3 linked regions of the Homo sapiens genome follow. The protein of the gene in region 1 interacts with the protein of each later gene in a pairwise test. Each region holds a gene or a part of one and is shown on either strand. Other genes may lie near its edges. The genes, in order: SLC71A2, TMEM119 and EXOSC10.

The links.
Region 2: the proteins of SLC71A2 (region 1) and TMEM119 interact in a two-hybrid assay, tested with the Homo sapiens proteins (one large-scale study listed by BioGRID).
Region 3: the proteins of SLC71A2 (region 1) and EXOSC10 interact in a two-hybrid assay, tested with the Homo sapiens proteins (one large-scale study listed by IntAct).

What each region holds. Positions count from the first base shown.
Region 1 is NC_000009.12:94,377,488-94,381,139, reverse strand, and holds part of SLC71A2 (hippocampus abundant transcript-like protein 1), read right to left. Parts: intron 1-3,652.
Region 2 is NC_000012.12:108,589,301-108,592,319, forward strand, and holds the end of TMEM119 (transmembrane protein 119 precursor), read right to left. Parts: coding exon 2,232-3,019; 3' UTR 551-2,231; downstream 1-550. UniProt on the Homo sapiens protein: Plays an important role in bone formation and normal bone mineralization. Promotes the differentiation of myoblasts into osteoblasts.
Region 3 is NC_000001.11:11,079,315-11,082,966, reverse strand, and holds part of EXOSC10 (exosome complex component 10), read left to right. Parts: intron 1-88; coding exon 89-279; intron 280-308; exon of another isoform or gene 309-433; intron 434-1,728; coding exon 1,729-1,885; intron 1,886-2,054; coding exon 2,055-2,203; intron 2,204-2,417; coding exon 2,418-2,468; intron 2,469-3,144; coding exon 3,145-3,256; intron 3,257-3,652. UniProt on the Homo sapiens protein: Catalytic component of the RNA exosome complex which has 3'->5' exoribonuclease activity and participates in a multitude of cellular RNA processing and degradation events.

The sequences.
Region 1 (3,652 bases):
ACTTGAACCCAGGAGGCGGAGATTGTGGTGAGCCGTTATCACGCCATTGCACTCCAGCCTGGGCAACAAGAGTGAAACTCCATCTCAAAAAAAAAAAAAGGGGGAAGAAAATTCAAGCCAATATATAGTGACAGAGTAGATAAATTATCGCCTGGAAATGGAGGTGTAGAGGGAGGTAAAAAGAAACATTTGAGGGTGATGAATATGTTTACTATCTTGATTATGATAATGGTTTCACAGGTGTATAGATATGTCACAACACAAAACTGTGCACTCCAAACACACAGTTTATTTTATGTCAATTAAACTGAATAAGGTTGTTTAAAAAAGACAAGCAAATACAAAGCTAACTATAAAAAAGTCAGACTAATGCTGGGCACAGTGGCTCACACCTGCAATCCCAATGCTTTGGGAGGCCAAGGCAGGAGGATTCTTTGAAGCCAGGAGTTCGAGACCAGCCTGGACAACAAAGCAAGAGCACATCTCTACAAATAAAAATTTAAAAATTAGCCAGGCATGATGGGACGTACGTGTAGTCCCAGCTACCAGGAGGCTGAGGCAGGAAGATCACTTGAGCCCTGGAGTTCCCGGGTGCACTGAGCCATAATCACACCACTGCACTCCAGCCTGGATGAAACAGTAAGACTCTTGTCTCAAAAATAAATAAATAAATACACATTAAGAATAGATTTCTCTCCAATTCTCACAGAACAATGCTCTTGCTATGCCATAACCTCTTTCTCCATAGCATATCTAAGATTTCATAACCACTTGTGAAAGTTCTATGACATGCTGAACTGGAGGAAGGGAAGAGGAAAAGGGGAAGAGAGAACACATGTAAGAAACTGAGAAATTTCTTTTTTTTTTTTGAGAAAGAGTCTCGCTCTGTCGCCCAGGCTGGAGTGCAGTGGCACGATCTCTGCTCACTGCAAGCGTGGTCCACCTCCCAGATTCACGCCATTCTCCTGCCTCAGCCTCCCAAGTAGCTGGGACTACAGGCGCCCACCACCACGCCTGGCTAATTTTTTGTATTTTTAGTAGAGACAGGGTTTCACCGCGTCAGCCAGGATGGTCTCAATCTCCTGACCTCGTGATCCGCCTGCCTCAGCCTCCAAAAGTGCTGGGATTATAGGCGTAAGCCACCGCGTCCAGCTGAAACTGAGAAATTTCAAAAATGCTTCCATAGGGTAATAAAGCATGTTTACGTGTATACAGCCAAAAGGATACCTAACAGTAAGAAAAAATTAATGTATTCCTGTTACGTAGAGGAGGTTGTATGCACTTTTACCATTACCATTGAATACTTTCCTGGATATTCTAGTTCATTTAACATCAAAATAAGATATAAAATTATCAACACGTGCAATATTTGTGAATATTTATCCAGAAGATCCTACAAAATTAAATATTTTTTGAAAGACAAAGCACAAGTTATCAATGCAGAGTACCAGCCAGGCATGGTGGCTCATGCCTATAATCCCAGCACTCTGAGAGGCTGAGGCTGGAGGATTACTTGAGGCCAGGAGTTCAAGACAAGCCTGGACAACACAGTGAGACCCAATCTCTACAAAAAAATTTAAAAACTAGCCAGGCATAGTGCCACGTGCCTATAGTCCTTGCTACTAGGGAGGCTGAGGCAGGAGGATCATTTGAACCCAGGAGTTTAAGGTTACAGCAAGCTATGATTGTGCGCCACCGCACTCCAGCCTGGATGACAGAGTGAGGCCTCACCTCTTAAAAAAAAAAAAAAAAAGGGCCAGGCGCAGTGGCTCACGCCTGTAATTCCAGCACTTTGGGAGGCCAAGGCAGGTGGATCGCCTGAGGTCAGGAGTTCAAGACCAGCCTGGCCAACATGGTGCAACCCCATCTCTACTAAAAATACAAAATTATCCGGGCATGGTGGCACAAGCCTGTAATCCCAGCTACATGGGAGGCTGAGGCAGGAGAATCGCTTGAACCCGGCAGGCAGAGGCTGTAGTGAGCCAAGATCACACCATTGCACTCCAGCCTGGGCAACAACAGTGAAACTCCGTCTCAAAAAAAAAAAAAAGGAAATGCACACCAAGAATCCCTACAGAAGGTGAAAAGAGCCTACGAGGTCATTATTCACAGCTTTATGCCAACTAATTTGACATTTTAGATAAAATGGGCAAATTCCCAACAAAACACAACTTACTGAAACTGACAGAACTAAAAATCAAACAGAAAACCTACGCTGTTCTAGAATTAATCTCCAAAAGGCCAAGAACTATAAAGTTCTAGAACTGTATTACCAATCTTACACAAATTCTTCCACAGAATAGAAAACCAAACTATCCAATTTGTTTTTAAGGCAGATAGCATTTGGATATCTGTCTCCTCCAAATCTCATGTTGAAATGTGACCCCCAGTGTTGGAGGTGGGGTCTAGTGGCAGCTGTTTGGGTCATGGGGGCTGATCTCTTCTCAATTGTTTGGTGTCCTTCTCACAGTAATGAGTGAGTCCTCGCTCCATTAGTTACCACAAGATCTGATTGGTTTTGTTTATTGTTTGTTTTTGAGACAGAGTCTCACTCTGTCACCCAGGGTGGAGTGCAGTGGCGCCTCCCAGTTTCAAACAATTCTCCTGTCTCAGCCTCCCAGGTAGCTAGGACTACAGGTATGCACCATCACACCCGGCTAATTTTTGTATTTTTAGTAGAGATGGGGTTTCACTATGTTGGCCACGCTGGTCTCCAACTGCTGACCTTAAGTGATCCACCGCACGCGGCCAAGATCTCATTGCTAAAAGGAGCCTGGCACCTCCTCCCCTCTCTCTCTTGCTCCCTCCCCAACACGTGATAAGCTGCTTCCCCTTCGCCTTCTGTCCTGATTGCAAGCTTTCTGAGGCCCTCACCAGAAACAGATGCTGGTGCTAAGCTTCCTGTACAGCCTAAAGAACCACTTTTCTTGATAAATTCCCCAGTCTCAGGTATTCTCAGGTATTCCTTTACAGCAACGCAAACAGCTAACATACACCTCCTTTTTTTTTTTTTGGAAATGGAGTCTCGCTCTGTCGCCAGGCTGGAGTGCAGTCTGTCGCCAGGCTGGAGTGCAGTGGCACGATCTCAGCTCACTGCAACCTCCGCCTCCCAGGTTCAAGCGATTCTCCTGCCTCAGCCTCCTGAGTAGCTGGGACTACAGGCGCCTGCCACCATGCCCAGCTAACTTTTATATTTTTATAGAGACAGGATTTCACCATGTTGGCCAGGATGGTCTTGATCTCTTGACCTTGTGATCCGCCCACGTCAGCCTCCCAAAGTGCTGGGATTACAGGTGTGAGCCACCGTGCCCGGCGACACACCTCCCTTTTCTAGAAGGAAATGATCTCTTGGAGTAAATACTTGATTCTCTTTTATTTTTCAGATTATGACATCTCTCTGCCAGTATCTTTTTCTGGTCAATATATCTCTTTGCCAAATAAGGTAGAAAAAAGTTGTCAGGCCAAGCATCATGGCTCTAACCTATAATCCCAGCACTGGGAGGCTGAGACAGGAGGATCATTTGAGCCCAGGAGTTTGAGACCAGCTTGGGAAACAGGAAGACTTCATCTCTACAAAAAATAAATTAAAAAAAAAAAAAAAAAAAAGCCAGGCATGGTGGCACATATCTGTTGTCCCAGCTACTCAGGAGGC
Region 2 (3,019 bases), on another chromosome or scaffold:
CCAGCCCCAGGGACCCAGCACATGCTCCCAGCCCCAGCCACATCTGGATTCCAGCTGGCAGCTCCTGAGGCCCAGGGTGCGGGGGAGAAGTCGCTGCAGGAACTTGCCATCAAAGACCAAGAGGAGTTTTGTGGGTGGGGAGACAGAAGGCAGAGGCCGACTGCAGGGCCAGGGCTGCCTCCTACTCCCGATCCCGGCCAAGGGTGCAGTGAGGGGGGCATTGTCCATGAGACCCGTCCCAGTCCTCAACCACCTGCAGGGGAAACAGAGAGGTGAGTGACTCTCCCATGGCCACAGTGGCAGAGCTGGGCATGGAACCTGGGTCTGCGTGGCCACAAGTCCAGAGCTGGTGCTCCACCCCTGGGGACATGAGTTCCAGCCCATTCCTCGGGAGCACCGGTCTTTCCTTTGTTTCCCACATCAATCTGTCCCTTCACCCTCCAGGACTGGGCTGATGTGTCTCCCCAGAAAGTTGTCCCCATCCCCATGCAAGAGCCCCTCCCCAGCAGGCTCATTTCCCCCACCCCCCAGAAAACTGGTGAGACTTCAGGCCGGAATAAAGGTTTATTGTGCTGGTGCATTATATCTCAGCACCTGGAGAGCTGTGCAGAGGTTGGGGGAGCCCCAGATGGAGGGATGGGGGAGAGGACCTCCTGCCAGAGCCTCCCTAAAGCAGGACGGAGCCCAGGCTCCCTGTCGAGGACTGACGAATATTGTGGACACAGGCTGCCAGACAATGTGTGAGCAACAGGGGGTGGCCAGGGCCCCCCTGCTCCAGGCTGGGCGTCAGAAACCCTTCCCCAGCCCCTCGGACTTCCCCAGGGTGGAGGTCCCCTCAAACACAGCCCCTCAGCTTCTAGGCTGCTTTGGAGGCCAGACAGGAAGAGTTCCATTCATTCAACCTGATCCCAGCAGCAGTAGCGGGATGAGAAACTCACCCCCAGGCCGGGGGTGCTTGGAGAGCGCTTGAGAGGATTTAAATGCCCTATACCCCACATCCCTAATCCTGGACCAACTAGAAACAGGGGGCCACCTTCAGGAAAATTAAGAGCAGTATTTTCCAGAGTGGGTGCTGCAGGATTTTACCCTGTAGCTGTTTTAAAAAGTAGTTTGGGCCGGGCACGGTGGCTCACGCCTGTAATCCCAGCACTTTGGGAGGCAGAGGCAGGTGGATCACCTGAAGGTCAGGAGTTCCAGACCAGCCTGGCCAACATGGTGAAGCCCCATCTCTACTAAAAATACAAAATTTAGCTGGGCGCAGTGGTGGGCACCTGTAATCCCAGCTACTGAGGCGGGAGAATCGCTTGAACCTGGGAGGCGGATTGCACTGAGCCAAGATTGCACCAAGATTGCACCACTGCACTCCAGCCTGGGTGACAGACCGAGACTCCGTCTCAAAAAAAAAAATCTTGTTTCCGTAGAGTGCCTCGGGGAACCTAGTTTGGGAAATGCTCATTTAGGGACCTGTCGTAATGTGTGCAGGGGTCCTCTCACAGAAGTGTCCTAATTAACCACACACACTTCTGCTGCTGGAGCTCTGAGCACAGGCAGAATGACACTAAAATATTCAGCATTGAAAGGACACAAGAAGGGAACCATTTGCAGTTTCAAAATACTGCTTCACGCCAGGCTGCATGTTGCCTTACGAACGCTGGGCACCTTGGCGTCTCTCATCCAAACTCTTCCAAAACTCCCACTTATTCTTTGCTCCCTTGATGGAAAAGCAGTGATGTTTGCCCCACAAATGACCTGTGACATATGATTCCCAATTAATGTGGCTGATTTAGTGGACTGTTTTTTGTTTTTATAGAGATGGGTCTCACAATGTTGCCAGGGCTGGTTTGGAACTCCTGGTCTCAAGTGATGTCCGCACTTGGCCTCCCAAAATGCTGAGATTACAGGTGTGAGCCTCCACACCCAGCCTTGAGGGATGTTTTATCCTGGCTGTCACAGGGACACGTGCCCTCCCTCACTTTGTCAGGGGAGCTGTGCTGTAGGATGTAGCCCTTTGGGGCTGCTGAGGTGAAGGATGATGGCACTTGGTAAGATTCCTCCGGGGCACCGGGGACCAGCATTTCTGCCTGCTGTAGAATCAGCACATGCTGGGATTGGCACCACAGGGAGGCCAAGGAGGGAGTGTCAGGAAGCAGTCAGGGCTGAAGGCCTTTTCATACACGGGGAGGTGACCACTTGGGGGCCCGACAGTCAGGGCTGGCAGCCCGGGAGGACTGTTAGACACTGGGGTGGACACTGCTGCAAGCACAGGGGCTTTCGGGGGGACCCACTGGTCCCTGGGCTTCCTGGGCTAACAAGAGAGACCCTTCCAGCTCCCCTTGGCCCTCACCGGCCACCACAGCCCCCTCAAGGACCCCTGAGCACGGCTCCTCCTGCGCCTCTGGTGTCTCCACTGGGACCCCATGTCCCTGGACTTCCTGGTCCCCCTCCTGGCTGCCCTTCTCCTCTTCCTCTGCGCCCCTGCCCTCCACCATCCTGGCTCCGTCCCCACCGCCCAGTGCAGCCCTGGTGGGGGACTTGAGGTTCTGGGTGGCGGCCAAGATGTCGGCCTGGAGCTGCCGGGAGGAATCCAGGGCTTCCTCGGGCCTGCTGTCGGGGGCTCTGTCGGGGACCTCACTGAAGGCCCGGGGGCCCCCGGCCCGGTCACTCTGGTCCACGTACTTCTTCTTGGGGAAGGACGATGGGTAATAGGCCGAGGCCTTCTGCTTCTGCCGGGTGATGACCGCGGCACAGACGATGAACATCAGCAGAAAGGCCAGGGAGCCCACCACAGCAATCAGCATCACGTACTGGCGGAAGAAGTCCACTATCCCATCCAGGAAGTTGGTGGGGGGTGATGGGCCCCCCAGGGTTATGGGCTGGGGCCCCATCGATGTGGGGCTGAGGGCCGGGGTCCAGGGTGGCGGGAGGCTCGGGGAGGAGGCCGACGAGCCCTCGGCCTCCCCACTACCCGCCACATCCTCCAGGAACGTGGCCTTCAGGGGCACAGAGCGGGCGTCGGTAG
Region 3 (3,652 bases), on another chromosome or scaffold:
AGTGTTCTAATAAACTAGAGGCAGAGTTAATTTCTGAGCATGAGTGGCCTGCTACCAGTGTACTGCATGACTTTGGTTCTGTTTTCAGGTCTTTCATGGTGCTGATTCAGACATAGAATGGCTACAGAAAGACTTTGGGTTGTATGTAGTAAACATGTTTGATACTCATCAGGCAGCACGCCTTCTTAACCTGGGCAGGCACTCACTCGATCATCTCCTGAAACTCTACTGCAACGTGGACTCAAACAAGCAATATCAGCTGGCTGATTGGAGAATACGGTCAGTTTGCTCTTACTGAGGAAATGTGGGTGGCAGAAGAAAGTGATTATTCATTAACCTGTCGTCCAGAGAGACCTGGGTTTGAGCCCTACCACGCTCATTGAGATGAATGGCATCAGGCTTTTCGCCAGGCATCTTCAGCAGCGTAAAAGTGGTAGGAAATTTTTTAATGCTAAGGTGGACTTTATGATGGGCTGATGCAGTTACACTGTGTTCCATGGAAATAGTGGTTGAAAAAGAGGTGCCGCACCAGTATTTGCCCATGCTGGTCTTTTGTTTGAAACTGGGATCTTTCTACCAGATGATTTTGTGTGTGTGTAAGATCTTCTGTAGGGATGATTGTGTGTGTGTGTGTGTGTGCAAGATGACCTTCCATAGGTGGGAAAGAATTCTAAGGGACACTGTTGTTTAGCTTTACACTGAGCGTTTTTTTGTGGCATAAGGTAGCAGTTTTGCCCCACTTCCTGCAGGCCTTGCTCAGCTTGGTCGTTTTCCGCTTGGTTGCTACCTCTCCGAGGTTGCACCTGTCATAGGAAGGTGCTACTGAGCTTTTTCAGGAATTCCACATGCCAGAATGCCAGAATTTCTTTTTTTCTTTTTTTTTTTTTGAGATGCAGTTTCACTGTTGCCCAGGCTGGAGTGCAATGGCGCGATCTCGGCTCACCACAACCTCTGCCTCCCGGGTTCAAGCAATTCTCCTGCCTCAGCCTCCTGAGTAGCTAGGATTACAGGCGTGCACCACCACGCCCAGCTAATTTTGTATTTCCAGTAGAGACGAGGTTTCTCCATGTTGGTCAGACTGGTCTCAAACTCCTGACCTCAGGTGATCCTCCCGCCTCCGCCTCCCAAAGTGCTGGGATTACAGGCGTGAGCCACCGCGCCTGGCCCAGAATGCCAGAATTTCTAAATATAAAAGTAAAATTACATTTGGACTGATAAAATCCAAATAAAAGATAAAAATTGATAAAATCTAAAAACCACTCCCTGTTACGGAGCCCTTACCCTGTGCCAAGCTCTGGGCTAAGTGCTTCAAGGATGTGGTCCTGTGTAGTCCTCACAACAGCCTATGAAGTACCTGGTTCCCATTTCACAAGTTAGGTGGGTCAGCCCAAAGAGGTTAAGGAACTTGTCCAAGGACAGACATCTGGAGCTGAGATTTGAACTCAGGACACCAGTGGCCCCTTTTCTACTGCCTCTTGTGTGTGTCCAGAGTAGCTGACAGTGCCCTTATTTTAACCACCGCATTACCCTGCCTCCAATTCTACCCAGCTGTTAAAATAATGGTTTATCATGTTAAAATGCAGGAAATGTTGGCATAACTGCAGTATTGACTATGAAAGGATCTTTCATATTGGAAGGGTCTAAGGAAGTCCCAGCACCCAAGGAATAGACAAATTGAATTGCTGTCCTTGGGGGCAATCAGTAAAACATTGTCCTCTGCAATTCCAGCCCTCTGCCCGAGGAGATGCTCAGCTACGCCCGGGATGACACCCATTACCTGCTATATATCTATGACAAAATGAGGCTGGAGATGTGGGAGCGCGGCAACGGGCAGCCGGTGCAGCTGCAGGTGGTGTGGCAACGGAGCAGGGACATCTGCCTCAAGGTACACCTCAGCCGCAGTCACACAGACCGCGACACTTGGGCTCTGTGTCTGGCCAGGTTCTAGTTCTTAGGTTTGCTCCTTACATTCATGAAAAGAGCCAAACATTTTCCAGAGCCCAGGGCACAATTTTGATTCCCGTTGATTTTGAATGTTCTCTAATACTTTGTAGAAATTCATCAAACCTATCTTCACGGATGAGTCCTACCTTGAACTCTATAGGAAGCAGAAGAAGCACCTTAACACACAGCAGTTGACAGCCTTTCAGCTGCTGTTTGCCTGGAGGGATAAAACAGCTCGCAGGGAAGATGAAAGTTACGGGTAAGGGATTAGAGGTTCTTTTAATACTTGTTTCCAGACTGAGGAGATCTAATAACAAGTAAATAATGGGCTTTTTTCTTTTGCTATGAAAGCTGGTTATTTCCCCTATGTGACAGCATCTAATGGAACTTACTGGCTGAATGTAATGTGTCCCCACCGTGTGTGTGTGTGTGTGTGTGTGTGTGTGTGTGTGTGTGTGTTTTTTTTTTTCCAGATATGTACTGCCAAACCACATGATGCTGAAAATAGCTGAAGAACTGCCTAAGTGAGTTTCAAATCTGATTAATATGTTCTGACTTTCTCAGTAGATCTGATGTTCTTCAAAATCAAGCTTTTCTGGTTGCTATTACCCAAGGCTGCTTACTCAGAGATTAATGCTCCAAGCTTGGAAGGTAGCAAGTTGAAGGAATATAGAATTTCTGCCCTCAGGCTGCCATTTAAGCACTAAAACTTCTGAACTGGAATCATTTCAATGATTATGCCTTAGTTTGAGTTTATTTTAAGTCTCTGAGCCTTATAGCATCTACTTGCAAGGGAAGAAAATGTCCCAGATTCTGTCATCTGTACTTTCTTCCAAATTAAAGCAGCTCATGATCTTAAACGTTTTGTGATCTTGATTGAAGTATAAGCAAGAATGAAAATCCACAGCCCGTTGGTTGCCCCCTGCGGAATTGAGAATCCACAGTGCTATGGCACTTACTTTCAGCTCTCCCTGATTGTGGGAGTCAGGCTCCAAGAGGGATCCACTTAAAGCTTGGTGTCGCAAAGAACACATGGAGAAGTTGGCCTAGGCTGGCCTGACATCAGTGTTTCCTTAGTCACCTACCTGTAGCTTCAGCTTAGGTGGCAGCCTGGCTTTACCCAGTCATTATTCTTATCTGGAAGCCTTTAAGGGCTGCGTTTCTGAGTGACAAGTTGAGTGTGTTCTTACTTGTCTTCAGGGAACCTCAGGGCATCATAGCTTGCTGCAACCCAGTACCGCCCCTTGTGCGGCAGCAGATCAACGAAATGCACCTTTTAATCCAGCAGGCCCGAGAGATGCCCCTGCTCAAGGTAAGAAGCTTTTCTGCGGCTGGGCACAGTGGCTCACGCCTATAATCTCAGCACTTTGGGAGGCTGAGGTGGCTGGATCATTTCAGGTCAGGAGTTCGAGACCAGCCTGGCCAACATGGTGAAACCCCGTCTCTACTAAAAATACAAAAAATTAGCCAGGCGTGTGGTGCACGCCTGTAATCCCAGCTACTCCGGAGGCTGAGGCAGGAGAATTGCTTGAATCCGGGAGGCGGAGGTTGCAGTGAGCCGAGATCGCGCCACTGCACTCTAGCCTGGGAGGCAGAGCGAGACTCCGTCTCAAAAAAAAAAAAAAAGATTTTCTACTGAAGGGTCCCAACTTAGCAAGCCTGTTTTTTTTTTGTTTGTTTGTTTTTTGTTTTTTTTAGACGGAGTCTC